2 separate regions of the Homo sapiens genome follow, and region 1 is linked to region 2. The links come from fine-mapping of genetic effects on gene expression. A gene starts in region 2. The other region holds a variant in brackets. All regions are shown on one strand. Distances are from middle to middle. Region 1 has its middle 3.6 kb from the start of AQP3. Region 2 holds the start of NOL6 (nucleolar protein 6).

What was found. PIP is the estimated chance that this variant, and not a neighbour inherited with it, causes the effect.
Region 1: its variant is the best candidate, but not a certain one, in a credible set for the expression of NOL6 in adrenal gland (GTEx, PIP 0.66).

Annotation. Positions count from the first base shown.
Region 1 is chr9:33,449,690-33,452,597 of GRCh38, forward strand. No RefSeq gene overlaps it. Among named protein-coding and RNA genes, the nearest start is that of AQP3, 3.6 kb to the left of the region's middle. The variant A/C (reference allele first, on the strand shown) is at 1,449.
Region 2 is chr9:33,472,442-33,475,349 of GRCh38, forward strand. It overlaps NOL6 (nucleolar protein 6), which reads right to left and starts at 1,483. Exons shown (of 26, transcript NM_022917.5): 1 at 1,348-1,483. The coding sequence starts at 1,401. LOC107987061 (a long non-coding RNA gene) reads left to right here and starts at 1,699. Exons shown (of 3, transcript XR_001746648.3): 1 at 1,699-1,756. RefSeq lists an enhancer at 1,095-1,434.

The DNA.
Region 1 (2,908 bases), 23 kb before region 2:
AAGCGAGCAGGGCTAGTGCAGAGGTTCTTCTCCCAGAGGGACCAAAAGAGAGAAGGGTTAGTCCTGTCGTCCTTGATCAGAAATGTGATCAGCACCAAGAAAGCCCCAGGGGCCACTGGGACCTACAGTCAAACTATGTTAGGTGACAGGACCATTGACATTTCAGGACAGATAGGCATGGACCCTTCAAGTGGACAGGTTGTGTCAGGAGAGGTAGCAGAAGAAGCTAAACAAGCTCTTAAAAACATGGATGATGACTCACTCCAGCCTCTAGCTCATGGGATCAAACAATCCTCCCACCTCAGCCTCTCAAATAGCTGGGACTACAGGCATGCATCACGATGCCCGGCTAATTTTTGTATTGTTTGTAGAGAAGGGGTTTCGCCATGTTGGCCAGGCTGGTCTGGAACTCCCGAGCTCAAGCAATTTGCCCACCTTGGCCTCCTAGAGTGCTTGGATTGTAGGATTATGAGTATTGCTAAACCCATCTCTTTGGGCATCAACCACCTCTGCCACATGCCTGTAATCCCAGCTACTCGGGAGGCTGAGACAGGAGGATCACTTGAACCCAGGAGGCAGAGGTTGCAGTGAGCCAAGATCACCCCACCTGGGTTCAAGCGATTCTCCTGCTTCAGCTTCCCGAGTAGCTGGGATTACAGGCATGCACCACCATGTCCAGCCAATTTTTTTGTTTTTTGTTTTTTGTTTTTTTTAGTAGAGACGGGGTTTCACCACGTTGGCCAGGCTGGTCTCGAACTCCTGACCTCAGGTGATCCACCCGTCTCGGCCTCCCAAAGTGCTGGGATTACAGGCATGATTCACCGTACCTGGCCTAGATAGGCATGTTAAAAAAGAAAAGAAAAGAAAGGAAATAAGGGCTCCCAGTCCCAGAGGTGGTTCATGCCCAAAGAGATGGGTTTAGCATACACATGAAGTAGATTCACATACATGCAGGTGCTTGCGCATACACACACACAAACACACAGACACACACACACACCCTGTGGTTTGCAGTCACACACTTGCCTATAGACACTGAGCTCTGCTCCCATGATCAGGGATCCCATTCACATGAGAGCCTCGCCATGGGCTCACACATATATAGAACCCCCACATGAGGACTCTAATGACCCTTGACCCAGAAAGATGCACCCTACCCTCCAGGCCTCTATAGGCTGGGAGGCCCCGTGGTGAATCAGGGAGCCATCACTGAGTACCTGCCCTCTGGCCCCACTGCCAGCCTGTGACTCAAGACAGAACCATAGACTCCTGGTGCCAGGGCCCAGATCACAGGCTATGGGAGTGGTAGAGCACCCCTGCCATGCTGCCCCCTTTTCCTCCCACCCTATAATATGCATCCAGCCCATCCCTGCCTCAAGTGGAGCTGCAAAGGCAGCACAGGGCAGAAACTGGCAAGGGACTCCTCAACACCGAAAGAAAATAGGGAA[A/C]CCCAGCCCACAACACCCCATTGTCACCCTGTCCCATCCTGGGTCTGCTGGCATCCAAATCTAGCCTGGGAACCAGAGCAGGGGAGAAAAACAGGGGAAGCTCTTTCACCAGCAGACACTACACACACTTCTATTTTTTATTTCTTTTCCTCTTCCCTTATAAAAGCAACCTGGAGGCCGGGCATGGTGGCTCGCGCCTACAATCTCAGCTCTTTGGGAGGCTGAGGTGGGCGGATCACAAGGTCAGCAGATCGAGACCATCCTGGCCAATAAGGTGAAACCCCATCTCTACTAAAAATAAAATAAAAAAAAATTAGCTGGGTGTGGTGGTGGGCGCCTGTAGTCCCAGCTACTCGGGAGGCTGAGGCAGGAGAATGGCATGAACCTGGGAGGCAGAGCTTGCAGTGAGCCAAGATGGCGCCACTGCACTCTTGCCTGGGCAACAGAGCGAGACTCCATCACAAAAAAAAAAAAAAAAAAAAAAAAAAGGAACCTGGCCTGGAGCCGGGCACAGTGGCTCATGCCTGTAATCCCAGAATTTTGGGAGGCCAAGCCAGGCAGATCATTTTAGCTCAGGAGTTCAAGACCAGCCTGGCCAACATGGTAAAACCCTGTCTCCACTAAAAACACAAAAATTAGGCCGGGTACGATGGCTTGCTCCTATAATCCCAGCACTTTGGGAGGCCAAGGCAGATGGATCACCTGAGGTCAGGAGTTCGAGACCAGCCTGGCCAACATGGATAAATCCCATCTCTACTAAAAATACAAAAATTAGCCAGGTGTGGTGGTGTGCGCCTGTAGTCCCAGCTACTTGGGAGGCTGAGGCAGGAGAATCGCTTGAACTCGGGAGGCAGAGCTTGCAGTGAGTCGAGATCGTGCCATTGCACTCCAGCCTGGGCAACAAGAGCGAAATTCTATCCCCTCGCCAAAAAAAAATTAGCCGGGCATGGTGGTAGGCACCTGTAATCCCAGCTACTCGGGAGGCTGAGGCCAGAGAATCGCTTGAGCCCAGGAGGCTGAGGTTGCAGTGAGCAGAGATCGCACCACTGCACTCCAGCCTGGGCGACAGAGACAGACTCCGTCTCAAAAAGCAAATAAACAAAAAAGCAACCTGCACACACATCTGTCTGCATTCACCTCACATGGGTTTTCTCGTGGGCTGCACCAGGAAGTAGCTAGTTACACACACAATTATGGATTTGTCTGTCTTATATACGTTGAGCAGCATTTATTTATACATATGCAGCTACCTGTACTCACCCATGTATGCATGCATGTATGTGTCTATCTATAATCCTGGACTGCAGCTCACCATAGAGTATCTTTGCAACCCCCTCCAGTCAATGCAGCTGCATGCCAAGGCACATGGTTTAGCTAGCAGAACAAGGGCTGGGTCTCAATGTCCTTGTTCCCCACCCCCTCCATCAGGGCCCAACCTTCAGGACCATGACTCCGTGAAC
Region 2 (2,908 bases):
AGGTAATAGGTATCTAGCATCTGCTGCCTAAAGTGCCACCATGATAGGTTGTGGGTAAAAGCTTCACCTGCTCTGTCCCTCTTTTGAGTAGGAGTCAGATTTTGTAAAACTCAGGAGAATCGTTACTTGGATGAACATCACTGAGCGCTGAGCCGAAAATTCCTTGAGTTAAGAGCTCTCCTGTCTACCTGACACCACAAGCATGGAGCTCTGTTTGGAATTGGTAGTGATAGAAGCTGACTGGGCCCAGGCTGGACACGGTGGCTGACGCCTGTAATCCCAGCAGTTTGGGAGGTGGAGCTGGGCGGATCAGCTGAAGTCAGGAGTTCGAAATCAGCCTGGCCAACATGGGGAAACTCCGTCTCTATTAAAAATACAAAAATTAGCCAGGTGTGGTGGCACATGCCTGTAATCTCAGCTACGCGGGAGACTGAGGCAGGAAAATCACTTGAACCCAGGAGGCAGAGGCTGAAGTGAGCCGAGATCGTGCCATTGCATTCTAGCCTGGGCAACAGAGCAAGACTGTCAAAAAAAAAAAAAAAAAAAAGAAGCTGACTGAGCCCTGCCCTAAGTAATGCCCAGGCCCCTTGTATTTTCAGGAAGTTTCCTCTTCTGCTGATATAGGCCTGGGACTTCTCAAATGTCTTTCCCATTCTCGCTCCAACCAAATCCTGCCAGGTTCCACCTCCTCTAGGAAGACCTGACTGCCTCAGTTTACACTAAATACTCACTGATGGAAGGAGCTAGAACCGACTGGACCCCAGAGGACACATTTAGCAAGTCATTAAATCCTCAAAATAATTCTTGAAGACACTTGAAGTCCCACTATTCACTCGAGGTTCCACAACTGGTACACCCGTACTATGAGCAGGCTTCAAAGGCAAGCGTGCAGGATCCCAAACCTTTTCCCCTACAGCCGTGGGCCCATCCGCTCCACGATGCCTCTCATCCCAGAGAGCCTTACTGGAGCGCTCCAGGAGAGGCACCGTATGCCCTCCGCTACAGCGGGGAGCACAGAACTGGACACAAATTCTGTGGAGGAAGATCCCGCTTATCGTCAAGGACCACCAAATAAAAGAAACGACCCAAGTGTGGGTCTCTTCAACTTTGAGGTGCAGAGCTCCAGAAGAGAGCAGAGGCTCTACCGGCTTCACTGCTTCTAACCAAATACTGCCAGGTTCCATCACCCCTAGCAAGCCCTGTCTCAGTGCCACTGGCTGGAAACATCCTCCAGAATGGGCCGCCGGCATGGCTTTCACCCGCAAGCTGTCAGATCACGCCATCTCGGGCCCTGCAGCCAAGGGAGCGCACATTGAGCCTCTGTTCCTCCCCGATGGCTCAACCCACCTCTGGCTCTCCAGTCGCTCCGCGAAGCTGCTCTCCAGCTGGCGCCGGCCCCATCACTCAGGGTCCAGCACTCTCCCGCACTTCAGATTCTAGCCGGGTCTATACCTCATAGCTTCCCACGTGGGCGGAAATGCCTAACTCCAGGCCCAAGTCCAGCCCACCCCAATTCCTCAGGACTCCACCCACTCCAGAGCTATTGGATTATCAGTCGATTACTCGCTTGCCATTGGCCGGGCAGTCTCAAGGCCCGCCCATTAGGGGAGGGGACAAACGGGTTTCTGTGCTTTACGGCCTCTTCGCGACGCTAGAACGGAAGCCTGCCCGTAGCTAGGCCTTTGCTTTCTTTTCCTCACTTCCTTCGCGTGGCTGCAATCGGGAAGGGCGGAGCTAGTTTGTTCCTTTTGGTCAGGTTTGTTTACAGCAGTTATTCCTCCCTTTTTCTTTATTTGCTACACCTTATCAGTTAACAAATCTTGTCAGTTCTACCTCCAAAACATACCTTGAATTTATTCATTTTTCTGTGTCTTCACTGCCAGGTTTAGCCCGTCACATCATCTTGTTCCCGAATTATTGTTATGACTTTTCTCCAGTTTTTACTTATTACTTAGCTTATTACAATTTCAAGTAATTTAGTTATTTTTATTTATTTATTTATTTATTTATTTATTTATTTATTTATTTATTTTTGGAGTAGTCTTGCTCTGTCGCCCAGGCTGGAGTGCAGTGGCACGATCTCAGCTCCCTGCATCCTCCCTCTCCCAGGCTCAAGCGATTCTCGTGCCTCAGCCTCCTGAGGAGCTGGGATTACAGGCAGGTACCATCACACCCGTCTAATTTTTGTATTTTCACTAGAGATGGGGTTTCCTCATGTTGCCTAGGCTGGTCTCAAACTCCTGACTGCCAGTGACCCGCCCACCTTGGCCTCCCGAAATGCTGGGATTACAGGCCTGAGCCACTGCTCCCGGCCTATTTTTAAACTATTAAAAATTTAAAACAAATGTTGCAAGAATAATATAATGAATGCGCATATACTCTTCACCTAGATTCACTTAGTGTTACTATTTTGCCAAGTTTATCTTTACCTATGTATTTACATATTATTTTGCAAAACCATTTGAAAACCAATCACACATCTCCCTAAATACTTAGGTATGTATCTACTAAGATCAAGGACTACCTCTTATGTAAGCACAGCCCGATTATGAAATTAAGGAAATTTAATCGTGATTCAATACTAGTATACAAATTCCATCTTTAAATTTTGTCAGTTATTCCAGTAATAACCGTTATATGTTTCATTTTATTTCCTAATGCAGGATCATCTAAATTCAACTATTACCATATAATATATATATATATATATATATATATATATATATATATATTTTTTTTTTTTTTTTTTTTTTTTTTTTTTGAGAGAGAGTGAGTGTCCCTCTGTTGCCCAGGCTAGAGTGCAGTGGGTCGATCTCAGCTTACTGCAACATCCACCTCCTGGTTCAATTGATTATTGTGGCTCAGCTTCCCAAGTAGCTGGGATTACAGGCATGCGCCAACACACCAG